4 linked regions of the Homo sapiens genome follow. The protein of the gene in region 1 purifies or fractionates together with the protein of each later gene. This does not show direct contact. Each region holds a gene or a part of one and is shown in the gene's direction. Other genes may lie near its edges.

The links. The genes of interacting proteins can lie anywhere in the genome.
Region 2: the proteins of BCAT1 (region 1) and HELZ purify together in Homo sapiens (affinity purification with mass spectrometry; 3 studies listed by BioGRID and IntAct, with this or other methods). This does not show direct contact.
Region 3: the proteins of BCAT1 (region 1) and FLYWCH2 purify together in Homo sapiens (affinity purification with mass spectrometry; 3 studies listed by BioGRID and IntAct, with this or other methods). This does not show direct contact.
Region 4: the proteins of BCAT1 (region 1) and RAB3GAP1 purify together in Homo sapiens (affinity purification with mass spectrometry; 3 studies listed by BioGRID and IntAct, with this or other methods). This does not show direct contact.

The regions. Positions count from the first base shown.
Region 1 is NC_000012.12:24,830,602-24,834,101, reverse strand, and holds part of BCAT1 (branched-chain-amino-acid aminotransferase, cytosolic), read left to right. Parts: intron 1-1,238; coding exon 1,239-1,379; intron 1,380-3,312; exon of another isoform or gene 3,313-3,401; intron 3,402-3,500.
Region 2 is NC_000017.11:67,242,397-67,246,528, reverse strand, and holds the start of HELZ (probable helicase with zinc finger domain), read left to right. Parts: upstream 1-1,332; 5' UTR 1,333-1,381; exon of another isoform or gene 1,382-1,753; intron 1,754-2,689; 5' UTR 2,690-2,745; intron 2,746-4,132. UniProt on the Homo sapiens protein: May act as a helicase that plays a role in RNA metabolism in multiple tissues and organs within the developing embryo.
Region 3 is NC_000016.10:2,896,540-2,899,865, forward strand, and holds the end of FLYWCH2 (FLYWCH family member 2), read left to right. Parts: coding exon 1-232; intron 233-2,236; coding exon of another isoform or gene 2,237-2,307; exon of another isoform or gene 2,308-2,415; intron 2,416-2,509; coding exon 2,510-2,610; 3' UTR 2,611-2,826; downstream 2,827-3,326.
Region 4 is NC_000002.12:135,135,792-135,139,291, forward strand, and holds part of RAB3GAP1 (rab3 GTPase-activating protein catalytic subunit), read left to right. Parts: coding exon 1-141; intron 142-836; exon of another isoform or gene 837-964; intron 965-3,500. UniProt on the Homo sapiens protein: Catalytic subunit of the Rab3 GTPase-activating (Rab3GAP) complex composed of RAB3GAP1 and RAB3GAP2, which has GTPase-activating protein (GAP) activity towards various Rab3 subfamily members (RAB3A, RAB3B, RAB3C and RAB3D), RAB5A and RAB43, and guanine nucleotide exchange factor (GEF) activity towards RAB18.

The DNA.
Region 1 (3,500 bases):
ATAATCCCAGCACTTTGGCACTTTGGGAGGCTGAGGTGGGAGGATCACATGAGCCCAGCCTGGGCAACATAGGGAGACCCCTATCTTTACAAAATAAAATATAAAATATAAAACCTAGTTGGGCATGGCAGCATACACCTGTAGTCCCAGGTGCTCAGGAGACTGAGACAGGAGGATCACTTGGGCCTGGGAGGTCGAGGCTGCAATGAGCCAAGATTATGCCACTGCATTCCAGCCTGGGTGACAGGGCAAGACCCTGTCTTAAAAAAAAAAAAAAAAGAAAGAGACAAACGTAGAAAGAGTACCAAATTTGGAGCCAATCAGATCAGACCTGGGTTCAAATTGAGTTTCTGTCACTTACTTCCTTTGTGGCCCTGGAGATGCCCTTCAACCTCCTTGAACCTTAGTTTCCTCATCTGTAAAATGGGGATGATAGTACTCACCCTTAAAATTACAGAACTTGGCATAATAGCGGGTGCTTGATAAATGGTAGCTATAATTATTAATATTATATAATACATTGTTCTCCTTTATGGTAAAGTAGGTTTTAAGACACTGATTTTTTTGTTTTGTTTTGTTTTTGGAGACAGAGTCTCACTCCGTCACCCAGGCTGGACTGCAGTGACGTGATCTTGGTTCACTGCAACCTCTGCCTCCTGAGTTCAAGCGATTCTCCTGCCTCAGCCTCCTGAGTAGCTGGGATTACAGGCACCCGCCACCATGCCTGGCTAATTTTTGTATTTTTAGTAGAGACAGGGTTTTACCAGGTTGGCCAGGCTGGTCTCAAACTCCTGACCTCAAGTAATCTGCCTGCCTCAGCCTCCCCAAATGCAGAGATTACAGGCATGAGCCACCGTGCCCGGCCTAAGACACTGTTAACACGGAGCATGCATCAAGCAGCATTTGGGATGCATCAATTTTGTGAGACTTTATACAAGTTAACAAATAAGAAGGCAAAAAAGAAGGCATATGTTAAAGTATACCATGTGTCTTGTGGTGATAATCTTATATTTTATATTCTGATAATCTCATATATAAATCTGTGACCTTGAAGTAGGTTACTTAACACCTCGATGTGTTCACCAGTAAGATGGTGTGCCACTTCCAGCTTTCCCTTAAAGGATGATTGTGACCTTGTCTAAGTGCAATCAGAATGTTAAGCAGAACAGTAAGTATTGCAATTGTTTTGCATGCCTTTTCCTTTAAAATATACTTGTTATTTTTTATATTCCATGCAGGGTGAATTTAAGGTGTCAGAGAGATACCTCACCATGGATGACTTGACAACAGCCCTGGAGGGGAACAGAGTGAGAGAGATGTTTGGCTCTGGTACAGCCTGTGTTGTTTGCCCAGTTTCTGATATACTGTACAAAGGCGAGGTACGACAAGTATTTCCTCATTTCCTATCATTTCCAATCACATTAAATTACATTTAATTTAAGTGTATGAATAAAATTGTATCTGGACCCAGACCCAAGATGCAAAAGTTTTGTCGTTGTTGTTGTTTTTCTTTATTTTAAAGAGATGGAGTCTCGCTGTGTTGCCCAGGCTGGAGTGCAGTGGCTATTCACTGGTGTGATCATAGCTCACTGCAGCCTCAAACTCCTGGGCTCACGCAATCCTTCTGCTTCAGCCTCCTGAGTTGCTGGGATTACAGGAGTGCGCCACCGCACCATGCTAGGTCTTTTTTGTTGTTGTTTTTGTTTTTTAACTTGGCACTACAAAAAAAATAACTGGGACAGTTTATCCAGATGAAACTGTATTAGCATATATCTACTATGTTTCCAGTGATTTCATGTAAGCTTAAACATGGTGGGAAGTTAGTTTTGTCCTTGGACACGTGTAAGATCTGTCTTACCTACATGTCGGGATTGGAGCTATGCCGACAGTCTTCTACTCTTCTCTCTTCCTTCCTACCAGCTCACTAGGGAAGGCTCTATAGGTAGTTACATTTCAGTTTCTGGTTAACCAAAAGTACTTCCAAACCACTGGATTAGGAATGGCAAATAGTTATGGAAAATGCATTCGAGTGGTCAATCCCTTGATTTTTTTTTACTATTAATGCTGTTATCATTAATAGTAAGTAGACCACTTTACAAGAATTATTCATTGGCAAACCTGGTGCATTTACTAAAATCTTACAAAAGGAATTTGAGGATTTGGTTGGAAGAAATGTTCTCCTCTTAGTAAATTAGTCTGATTTTATATGTGCCATACTTTTGTTTTCTTGTCAAATTGTTTTGCTTTTCACTTTATAACAAAGCTCCAATACTTATGATTAACATTGGCATCTAACTTTATAACTTAAAGGCATGTAAGTATTAGTCTTATAATGTGAACTGGCTTAAGTTATTCATATTATAGCAGATCCTTGAACAACACAGGGATTAGGGGTGTCAACCCCCATGCAGTTGAAAAATCCACATACAACTTTTTTTGTTTGTTTGTTTTTTTAAACGGGGTCTTTCTCTGTCACCTGTACTGGAGTGCAGGGGCACAATCTCGGCTCACTGCAACCTCCGCCTCCCAAGCTCAAGCGATCCTCTCACCTCAGTCTCCCAAGTAGCTGGGACCACAGGTGTGCACCACCACACCCAGCTAATTTTAGTATTTTTTGTAGAGACGGGGTTTCAAGATGTTTCACAGGCTGGTCTCAAACTCTTGAGTTCAAGTGATTCACCTGCCTTGACCTCCCAAAGTGCTGGTATTACAGGCGTGAGTCACCATGCCCGGCCCACATATAACTTTTGACTTCCCAAAAACTTAACTACTAGTAGCCTGCTGTTCACCGGAAGCCTTATCAACAACAAAAACAGTCGATTGGCACATATTTTGTATGTTATGTATGTTATATATGTATTCTTACAATAAAGTAAGTTACGAAAATCATGGGGAAGGGAAAATATATTTACTATTCATTACATGGAAGTGGATCATCATAAAGGTCTTCATCCTCATTGTCCATCATGTTGAGTAGGCTGAGGAGGAGGAGGAGGAGGAGGGATTGGTCTTGCTGTTTTAGGAGTGGCAGAGGCAGAAGAAAGTCCACGTATAAGTGAACTTGTGTAGTTCAAACCCGTGTTGTTCAAGTGTCAACCGTAAATGCAAACTCCACTGGTTTTCAAATTTTACTTTAGAGTTATTTTCCCTCAGCTGATTGGAGTTTTGCTCAACTCCTCTGACTTTAATAATGGCTGCTTCATTTGTTGAGGTTTTAGAACTTGCTTTTAAGGGATTGCTCTTGACATAATTGCATCAACAGATAGACTGTTTCATGGGAGAAGAATTGTTCTGTTTCATGTCAATACTTACATTGATAAGAATGCATCAAGGTAATGTGATCCATCCACTGAAGTTGTCATTAGGCCAGATTTTTTTTAAGTTGAATTATTATTTCACTTCTAGAAATAAGAAGTTTATAAAGTTTAGCATAATTTTAATGATCCAGGCTTAGGAAGCATTTACAGCCAAAAAGTAAGTATATATAATTATCATATTAT
Region 2 (4,132 bases), on another chromosome or scaffold:
ATTTTGTACCGAATACAATTCGCAAGCATTCCTGTCTTGGAGAATTTTCTTTTGGGTATCTCCTTGTTGTAAAAACTTGCTTGGAAAAAAAAAAAAGCAACTGGAGCAGGCCTCCAAAGACAGCAAAGCAGGGACCAGAGGCTCTGCGGAGAGCGCGGGAGGAGGCTGACCAAGGGGCCTCCGTTGCTGGGGGGACCTGGGCGGCTGGACGCCGGGGTCAGTACGCTGCTCGCCCCGCGCAGCCGAAAGCGGGCGTGGTGTCGCGGGGAGAGGATGCCCGGCAGCAGTGTGGCCGGCGGGCTGGGGGTACTCGCCCGGGTCAGAGACCTCAGCCCGCGCCAAGGCGCCCCACACTTTCCAGCGCAGCGGGTCGCAGCCCGGAGACGCCGGGCGTCCCCACCTCCAGCCTCCCGAGCTGCAGCGGCGCCCGCGGTTCTCCCCCGACCCGCCAGGTGGACCCGGACTGGCGCACCCTGCTTTCCGCCCGGGACCCTCCCCCGAGCCCTGGCTGCCTCCGCGCCCCGCCCCGCCCGGAGCCCGCAGCCGGCGCCCCGGATTACCTGCCCCGGAGTCACAGTCCGCAGCCCGGACGCTCCCAGGGTGGCTCCGCGGAGCCTGGAGCCACATTCCTAGGGGAGGGGTCCCCACCTAGAGGGTCGCGGATCACGTTACCCGCCCGGAGGAGGAGACCGCGGGACACAGAGTAAACAAGGGGTAAAAAGTTGCATTTGGCTCAATTTTTTTTTTTAAATCGTGCTTCGACGCTGGTGGACTCGGGGACACGGCGTCCTCCCAGTTCCCGGAGCCCAACGGCCCCGGGGCGGTTTCCCAGGGCAGAGGCACCTCTCCGGGCGGCGGGTGCGGAGCTGGTCTGCGCGGCCTCTGAAGGCGACCCCGGCCGCTCGCGGGCTTCCTGGAAGCGCGGCCGCAGGAGCAGAAACGCTCACATCCACGCGCACAAATAAATCCGCGAGCAGCTCCGCGCCGCGCCGCGGGCGGCAAGGAAACCTCGGGTTGATTCAATGCAGACGCGGGGCGTCTGCCCGGGCAGGAACGCGGCGAGGCGAGAGGACCGGGCGTGGGGGCAGGGAGGCCGGGGCAGGAGAAAGGGAGAAAACCCCAAAGCCACGTTTTAAAAATGCGGGTGAATTTTCAATGCCGTCAGCCCGGGGGAGGGGAAGGGGCCAGCTGCGGGCGCCGGGGTCGGCAGTCCACCCGGGGCAACTTTCCGGGCGGGAGGCGCGGCCGGAGGGGGCGGCGCCGGCGGCGGGAGGCGGGAGTCGGGGGCCGGGGGGAGTCACTTTAAAGGCTCTTTCTTACCCATAATGCTTTGTGGGGACGTTGACAAGTGGATCCAAGATGGCGTAGAAAGTAATGACAGGTAAGTCCTGACTTCCCCCTTCTCTGCTCCTGGGGCCGCTCCGCGAGCTCCCGGAGCTCTCCGGGGAGGGGACCCGACTCCCCTCCGGTGTCCCGGACCCCGGGCGCGGCGGCCCCGGGGCAGGCTGGGGGCCTGGGCGGCCCGCGGCTGGGCCTGGGAAGCGCGGCTCTTCGAGGCGAGGCCCGGACGCTGGGGCTGTTTACAGCTTCTTCCCCTACTTAGTCCCCTTCCCCTCCGCTGGGGCCCGCAGCGTCCTGGGCCCTGGCAGGAGAGGGGGCCTTGCACGCCTGGCCCGGGAGCCTGCGGGAGGTTTCTCCGGCCCAGAGCACTCTGGGAGGGGGACTCGAGCCTCCCGGCACGTTCCCCTCCTCCGGGTCGCGGCTGGGGGTGGGGAGCGTGCGGGCCTCCCACGCCCCGCTCGATGCCCCCCCTCAGGCCTCGGACTTCCACCGGGTGGGGTGGGGGCTGGAGCGGGGGCGTGGGGAAAAGTGGGTCAGGCGTGCGCCCCCTCCCTCCCCCGCGGAGGGCTCTCGGCCCGAGATTCACTTTCTTCCCCCCTTTCCCCGCCCCCTCCTCGGAAATGCTCTTTGGCCCACAAGCACATCAACAAAAATAAAGATAGGCTCTCTTTTCCTGGAGATTCCTTGAGAGTACTCCAGTACCCTTTTCAAGGGCTCACAGACTGCAGTCTTACCTAGGGAACTTCGATTCCTCTCCCCTAAATTATTGGAGCCTTCTGCACCCTCGCCTTTGCTGAGAAATCTTCAGACAGGGCTGGAAGCCAGGGTCCTCTGATTGTTCTTGGATCGGGATCCTCAGGTTTTGTTTGCAGTTCAAAAATTGTCATTCCTTCTCCCTCACAACTTAACACTTCTCAGGCAAATCATTAATATAATAAAAAGTGTAACTTCAGAGACAGTGGATTCCTGGAGCGGGGGAAGGAGGGAGGAGTTGTCTGTCTTGCCTAGTTTGTTCTTAATTTTGCTCTCTCTTAAACTCATATTAATGAAATTTCCTCTCCTTCATTTCTTTATGTTTTTGAAAGTAAGGTCAGTCTGTGTTGAAAAAGATGATTTTATTATGTTTTTGAGTTTTAAGAGCATTGTATAATCTATTCTTTTACCTTACTGAAAGGAAATGTTTTAAGGTCAAAAACCAGACTCATTTGCAAAGCTGCACACTGTACCATTTTTGTAACTTTTTCCATTTTAAATGTAGATGCCCTTTCACTTCAGGCTGATAAAATGTTTGCTACTGATAATGTCTGTTACTGGTGTTGTATGGAAACATCTTTTCTATTTGCCTCAGGATTTGGATGAAGTAATGGATCACTAATGAACTACAGTGCTGGTGAGATGTGTAAGGTGAGACTGCAGTTAAAAATGATTTCCTTTTTTTCCTTCTTTATTTTAATCAACTGGTAAGAGTAAGGCTGAAACTGAGTAATTTGATGGGGCCATCTTTGTTTTCCAAATGTATCACTCAGTCAGTGGGTCTATGGGCAGGGCTAGATTTAGAAAGGAAAAATATGTTGAATGTACCAATCTTTTCAGTTGCTCCAACATACTCAAACATAGTGGTACTTAACTAAGAGCCAAATGTTACTTGCAGCTATTCTTGATCAGTATCTTCACCAGGGATAATTATAGTTTGCCTATTCAAATTTTCTTGCGTAACTTTACTTGGATGTCTTAATTTTATTTGTGTTTTGGTGTCTATCACCTACTGTACGTTTAGTCCCGGTGATTATGTATATGGATTTTGTGTGTACCTGGTTTGTGGGACTCGTAAAGTATACCCTTTCCGTTAGAAAGAATTAGGCAGGTCAATCACTCCTGCTTTTATTTTCTGAAAAATGGAGTAGTACTTTTCTCTTTAATAATTATTTTGAAATAAAGATGATAGTGTTGAGATCTGTTTAGCTTATTAGGAAATAGACTAGTTTGTCATTATGTCCTGATCACACACGGTGTGTGAATTTATTCAAAGTGCTTTATTTAATCTAATTTGTAATGCTTTGGATTTAAAGGATATTATTGATACAGTGTTAGTGAATAGTTTTCTGTGCTATAGAGAGGAAGAGAAGTTTGCTACTTTTACATTTTTCACGAGTTTTCTCAACTTAAAATGTTTTACTAAGTTTTTTTTTAGAAAAATAATAAGTAATTGTGGTCGATTGGTTACTGTAGTTTTTTTTTTGTTGTTTCTCCACACATCTGGGCCTCTGGATTTTGAAATCCTCTCACAAATTTTTCGTGTCTATCACAACATCTGTTTAAGAAGAATAAGCTATCCTTTTTTTTTTTTCTAGATTGAGGCATGTAATTGACATTTTGCCTTAAAAAAATAAAAACTTAGGAAAGGAAGGTGGACATAAACCAAGATTCTTTTGTAAGTGCACATACTGCATTTTCTTGTGTTTGAAACTCAGCAGTGCTTATGTTTATTTCATATAATTTTTATTTTTGGCAGAGCAAATATGGATTTTTAAATTTATTTTTATTTTGCAGATGGAGGCATATTCCTGCCTTAGACCTCCCAATTTGAACTTTATATATGTGTGTATATATACATATATGTGTGTATATATACATATATGTGTGTATATATACATATATGTGTGTATATATACATATATGTGTGTATAGATATGTGTGTATATATGTATATATGTGTATATATGTGTGTATCTATGTATATAGATAGATAGATTTTTTTTCTTTTTTTTTTTTTTTGAGACAGAGTTTCACT
Region 3 (3,326 bases), on another chromosome or scaffold:
GCAGCCCCCAGGAAGCCCAGAAAGTTCTCCAAACTGGTCCTGCTCACAGCCTCCAAAGACAGCACCAAGGTGGCGGGGGCCAAGCGCAAGGGTGTGCACTGTGTCATGTCCCTGGGGGTGCCCGGCCCCGCCACCCTTGCCAAGGCCCTCCTCCAGACCCACCCCGAGGCCCAGCGGGCCATTGAGGCAGCCCCTCAGGAGCCTGAGCAGAAACGGAGCAGGCAGGACCCAGGTGAGGCTCCACAGCGGCCCCCCAGGACAGCTCGGCACCTCCCAGGGTGGCCCCCACAGCCGCGCTGGCTCCATCAGGCGCTTCTCCCTGGCATGCGGGTCCTTGTTCCCTGACTTTGACCACGTGTGGAGAGCAGTGGCACAGGGGTTAGGGCACAGGCCTGGGCATCCGCCGACCTCCAACCCTGCCTCTGAGCGGCCTTGCCTCTCTGTGTCTGTTCCCCACTCTGGAATGCGCTGCCTACTGGCTCCTTCACAAGGGAGGGTCTGAGGGTGCGGCGGGGCCCACAGGCAGCTGCCGTCAGCTTCAAGGTCTTGGCTCGCAGCTGTTCGATGAGGGTCTCTAAGACCGGGGGCTTGATGGGTCACCTTTCCATATGTTCTAGAAAGCTTCTTTGGTCTCACTCACCGTTCAGTCACTTAGTAACATCCACTGAACAGCAGCTGTGTGCAGGCTGGGCTCTGGAGACTCGAGTCACGCAGGATGAGACTCCCAGCAGACTAAGGCAGTGACCTCAGCCTGGCTCTCCGGGACTGCCCCTGCTCTCCCTACCTCCTCTGCACAATCACCCCCCACCAAGCCTCCGGGGAGATACAGCTCAGGGCTCACAGGTCCCATGGGAGAGTGGGGCTGGGGGTGTGGCCCTAGCTGCTGCGGGCTGGCTGGAGGTGATGGGGCAGGTTCATTCCCTGTGCTTTGCTGTGGGAGTGATGGGATGGATGGAGGCACTGAGCATCTTCAGTCCCTGCTCCCACTCCCCAGGGCCCTTGGCTCTGCCCCTGCTGTGTACTAGACCTTTCAGCTAGACTTGGGGAACATAGTCAGGTGGGCCATGGTAGCAGAGATGGGATGAGAGCAGGGCTGCCCCTTTCCCTGCACCCAGCTCTCCCTGAGGTGGCCCAGGCCATGCCCTGCTGTCCCCTGCAGGAGGACAGGTCCCCTCCTGGCCCCACAGCAGGTCCTGCCTCTGGGCTCTACCAGGGCAGGCAGCGGTGGGGGCAGGGCCCTAGGCAGCAGAGGAAATGGGCTGGGTACACCTTTTGAACTGGAAGTTCCAGGGAGATGGGGCAGGGGGCTGCCCAGTGGGTGGGAAGAAGGTGAGTTGGGGTTTCTTCCCAACTGGGAGTGGGCTCTGCCGTGCCCTGAGAAGAAGAGGCGTAGCAGGTGGCCTTGGCTTGTGACCTCTGAACAGGTGGTCCCCTGGGGTCAGCCAGAACAGGTGGTCCCCTGGGGTCAGCCAGGGCACTCAGCCTGGCAGCCCATTGTGAGAAAAGGTTCCTTCAGTTTGCTGGCCGTGCAGGGACCCTGCCTCACTGATGGAAATTGAGGGGTGAGTGGCCTGAGGTCACAGAGGGTCACAGCCCCACAGCCTCCCTGGGGCTGAGACCCCAGAATGCCTGAGATGGTGGTGTCCGCAGCCACAGGCTTGGAGCTTTCAAGGAACCTAATGGACCCCTCGGCCTCCATCCCTCTGCTGGAGTCTCAGGCCTGGTGTGAGCAGTGCTCTGGGACTCAGAGGGACCCCGTCCTCCCAGAGCCGGTGGGAGTGCCTGGCTCTTACTGCGAAGCCCCCACCATCCAGTCCTGCTCTGAGAGCCTCTGCCTGTCCCCCTGGCTTCTCCTGCCAACCTTGGGCAGAGGATGCAGTCCCCATGGCCTGTGGGAGGCAGGGCTCAGAGGAGCGAAGTCGCCACTCTGAGGCCACCAGGAGGTCCCTGCAGAGGGCAGAGGGGGTTGGAGTCTGGCTCAGGATCTGTTACACCTGAGCTCTGTGGAATGAGACCATCTCAAGGTCCTCCCAGCCCCTTTGAGACTCCTGCTCACTGCTGGGATCCATCTAGGCCTGGGGCCGTGGTGCCTTTGTGAGAATTGGAGCACAGCCATCTTCGCCAGATGAAAGGCAGAGCAGGGCTCCATCAGGCGCCAGGGGTCCCGCAGGCAATCACCCTCAGGCATCGACCACCCCCATCTGCCAACTCCTCCATCCTTCCATCCCCACCCCAGGTCCAGCAGAGGCGATGGCTGCGGCTTCCCAGTGCTCAGCACAAACTTGGCCTCAAGTTTCCTGGAAATGACTTTAGCAGCTTTTGTGGCCCTGGCCTGGTGGCCTTGGGAGCAGCGTCCCTGAGTGGCAGTCACTTCTCAGTCAGGCAGAGGCTTCTGGCCCTGGAGCATCCACTGGTTGGGGTGAGAGTGAGGCCTGGTAGACCCCCAACAGCCAAGCTGAGCCCTCCCATCTCCATTGACACCAGCCTGATCCACCCTCTTCTCTCGCAGGCACAGACAGAACAGAAGACAGTGGATTAGCAGCGGGGCCTCCTGAGGCTGCTGGGGAGAACTTTGCCCCCTGCTCTGTGGCGCCCGGCAAGTCCCTGTAACCTTGACAACAGGCGCATCCTCCCAGGCCACCAACCCAGCCATAGGCTCTTCTCTGTCCGCAGGGCTTCTGGGGCCAAATGGGTGAATCTTTGCTTTTAACATTGTGTGATTTCTTTTCTTTTTTTTTTTTTTTTTAGATCAAGTATAAGTTACTTTTGTAAGCAGAAAAATACTTTCAAACAAGAATAAAAGAAGCTGTTCGCTAGACCCCATAATGGGCAGGTTTTAAACATCCCAGGCTTCTGGGTCCTTTGAGGCTCAGCTCTGATGCCACCACCCCTGGGTCTCCGCACCCCAGCCCTTACTGGGCCCTTCCAAAGTGCCCCTTAGTCACTGCCCTCCCTGACCCAAGTCTCGCTTCCTCCATGAAGCCTCCCAGACTGACAGCTCCCAGGCACTAAGGGAGCTCAGGCTTGCTGAGAATGGTAGCTCCAGGATTCTGCTGAGGGAGAGGTAGGCCTGCAGCTCATGGGTGGGTTCAGGGAGGAACCTGACAAAAGCACATGCGGCCTGCCTGTCATGTTTTTTCCAGGGGATTTGTGGGCTGAGGAAACCTGAGTTCCTGCCCTGGCCCCCTGGGTGCCATCCCTGCTGGAGGGGAGATGAAGGAAGCACAGCTACCCTACTTGAGCTCCCAAGTCAGCGAGCCTCCAGGAGGCTTCCCATGAGTCCTCATTCTTTGACAACTGCCTCTGGGCTCAAGGCAATGTTAGGG
Region 4 (3,500 bases), on another chromosome or scaffold:
CTTAAAGGAAATGGACAAGAGAGTGGCAAGAAAGGAGGACCTAAGGAGATGGCAAATTTAAGGCCGGAAGGACGGCTCTATCAGCATGGGAAACTTACACTGCTGCATAATGGAGAACCTCTCTACATTCCAGTAACCCAGGTAGGATGCACTAGTTCTTTCCATTTTAATTTATTTTGTGGTTTATATAACTTCATCCTAGTAGAAGATAGTGCTTTGAGTAAGGAAAATTATCCAAAAAGTCTATGTTTAGGCCAGATGCGGTGGCTTACGCCTGTAATCCCAGCACTTTGGGAGGCTGAGGTGGGCAGATCACCTGAGGTCAGGAGTTCAAGATAAGTCTGGCCAACATGGTGAAACCCTGTCTCTACTAAAAGTACAAAAATTAGCTGGGCACAGTGGCGCACACCTGTAGTTCCAGCTACTGGGGAGGCTGAGGCAGGAGAATCATTTGAACCCAGCAGTGGGAGGTTGCAGTGAGCCGAGATTGCACCACTGCACTCCAGCCTGGGCAACAGAGCAAGACTCTTGTCTCAAAAGAAAAAAAAAGTGTTTATGTTTAAAGATAAAGATATAGACTGTTTAAAGAAACTAAAGGTAAGGATTTCCCAATGACATAGATAAATGTGGTCTTGATTTAATCAAGGACCTTTAAAAGATTGGACAAAGTCTATGTTTAAAGATTAAAGAAATCTAAATAAACTTTTGGGGCTTTTAGGTTTGCCATTTCTGTAATTGAGAAATGTTTTGAAGTTTAAGTAGATCACGTCATCATATATAAGGTGATTTATAAACTGAGCAGTGAATGCTCAGATGTTTAAAAAAGAAAATCCAACTGCACTTATGTATGTTTTTGTTTAACTTGTGGACAAAGACTTATGGATAGGTGCAAAAAATAAATCCTCTTTTGCAACCCAGAACTCATTGTTCAGTATGAGTTTTGATACATATAAGAAGGGATATTATGATACCTGAGACAGTTAACTGATGGGAATATTGATAGCCATAAAGGTTGGTCCCAGACCAGGCACAATGGCTCAAGCCTGCAAGCCCCACACCAAGGTGGGAGTATTGCTTGAAGCCAGGAGTTCAAGACCAGCCTGTATAAGAAAGTAACAAACACCTCATCTCCACAAAAATTTAAAAATTAGCTGAGTATTGGGGCATGTGTCTGTAGTTGCAGCTACTCAGGAAGAGGAGGCTGAGGCAAGAGTATTGAGCCCAGGAGTTGGAGGCTGCACTGAGCTTTGATGACACCACTGTACTCCAGCCTGGGTAACAAAGACAGACCCTGTCTCTTAATTAAAAAAGATTGATTCTAGGACTGTGGAAGAGATAGTTAAACAGCATGGGATATGAAGGAAATCCTCAGCAGTATTAATTTTGCATTCCAATTTCATGTTGACTTGATACCTACGATGGCTTTTTGTTTTAAAGGCTTTTATCTTGAGAACATGATGTCTGTAGTTAAAGGTATTGGCGTATTCCACACATCTGTACTATTCTTGAGTATGATCGCTTAGGGTGTCAAATTGAGAACCAGGCAGATCCACCACCTACAGTAAAAAGGACCCTAAAGTAAATTGGTTGAAGAAGTTAGATCCCAAAGATTCTTGGTGAATTTTGAAGTCTTCATCAGTATATCCATATTAAAAGGAGATGACAGAAGCCAAAATAAAAGAATTATGGGCTAACAGGACAGCTGGATTAAAATAAGCATCAGTTTCATTAAAAAGGGCTAACTTGAAGATAAATCTTTTGACTCCAGCTCTTTAGAGGATCTGAAGTGACCTTGATGGACAGTGGAAGAAATCACAACATGGAATTACTTGAACAAAAATTTATTGACTTAAAGAAAAAGAAAAAATCCAAAAATATATAGAGAGAACAAAAGTAAATATCCTTCAATTATATGATTAGCTTTTATCTGTTCAAAAATAGTTTGAAGTCATATACACCATTAGGATGTAGAACAGCAATAACTCAACAACAACAGCAGCAATAGTTGTTTTTAAGGGTTTTGTTTTGTTTTTTTTTTGTTGTTTTTTTTTTGACACAGAGTCTCTCTTTGTCACCCAGGTGGGAGTGCAGTGGCATGACTGTAGCTTACTGCAGCCTTGACCTCCTGGGATCAAGTGATCCTCCCACCGCAGCTTCTCAAGTAGCTGGAACTACAGGTGCATGCCACCATGCCTGGCTAATTTTTCGTGGTTTTTATAGAGGTGGGGTTTTGCCCTGTTGTCCAGGCTTGTCTTAAATTCCTGAACTCAAGCCATCTGCCTGCCTCAGCCTCCCAAAGTGCTAGGATTACAGACATGATCCACTGCACCCGGCCTGAAAACATTCTATTGTGAAAATTGTAATCTAGTAAAAATGAAAGAGGCTCAACGCCTGTAATCCCAACACTTTGGGAGGCCGAGGTGGGGTTGGATTGCTTGAGCCCAGGAATTCAAGACCAGCCTGGGCAACATGGTAAACCCTATTTCTACCAAAAAAAAAAAAAAAAAAATTAGCCGACTGGGGTAGCGTACACCTGTAGTCCCAGCTACTCGGGAGGCTGAGGTAGAAGAATCAATTGAGCCCGGGAGGTTAAGGCTGCAGTGAGCTATGATTGTGTCACTGTTCTCCAGCCTGGGCAACAGAGCAAGACCCTGTCTCAAAAAAATAAAAAGTGAAAGCCACCATCCACTAATTTTGACTTGCATTCCTTGAAGTAACTAACAAGTATTATTGGTTTGGGTTATATTTCTTATAACTGTTTCTCTGCATTGATGTATAATACATATATGTGTGTACATATTAATACATGGTTTTATGGATTTTTTTTTTTTTTTGGAGACAGGATCTCATTCTGTTGCATAGGCTGGAATGCAGTGGCATGATCATGGCTCACTGCAGCCTTGACTTGCTGGGCTCAAGTGATCCTCTGACCTTAGCCTCCTAGGTAGCTGGGACTACAAGTGCTCACCACCATGCCAGGCTGATTTTTTCACTTTTAAAATTTTTGTAAAGATGGAGTCTTGCTATGTTGCCCAAGCTGGTCCTAAACTCCTGACCTCAAGCAATCCTCTGTTTCGGCCTCCCAAAGTGCTGGGATTATAGGCATGAGCCACTGTGCCCAGCCTCAATTTCTTATAAACAATTGGTATTACCAACCATATAAATTTTTGTTAACATGATGGTCAAAAGTAGTATCTCAGTGTTTTAGATTGTATTTTTCTGAATTTTCATGAACCTGAGCATCTTTTAATATGTTCGTTAGCCGTCCTTTCCTGTGAATCGCCTATGATTTTTCTTTTAGGTTGCTCCCCTGTTCTTATTGATTCATATGAATTCTTCATATTTTAGATGTGAATCTACAGTTATATATATTGTATATGTTTTCTGCTAGTCATTTTAAAAACATATGTTCATGTATTTACTTAATTATTGAGTTATAACTTAATACAATAAAGTGTACAGATCTTGGCTGGGCATGGTAGCTCATGCCTGTAATCCCA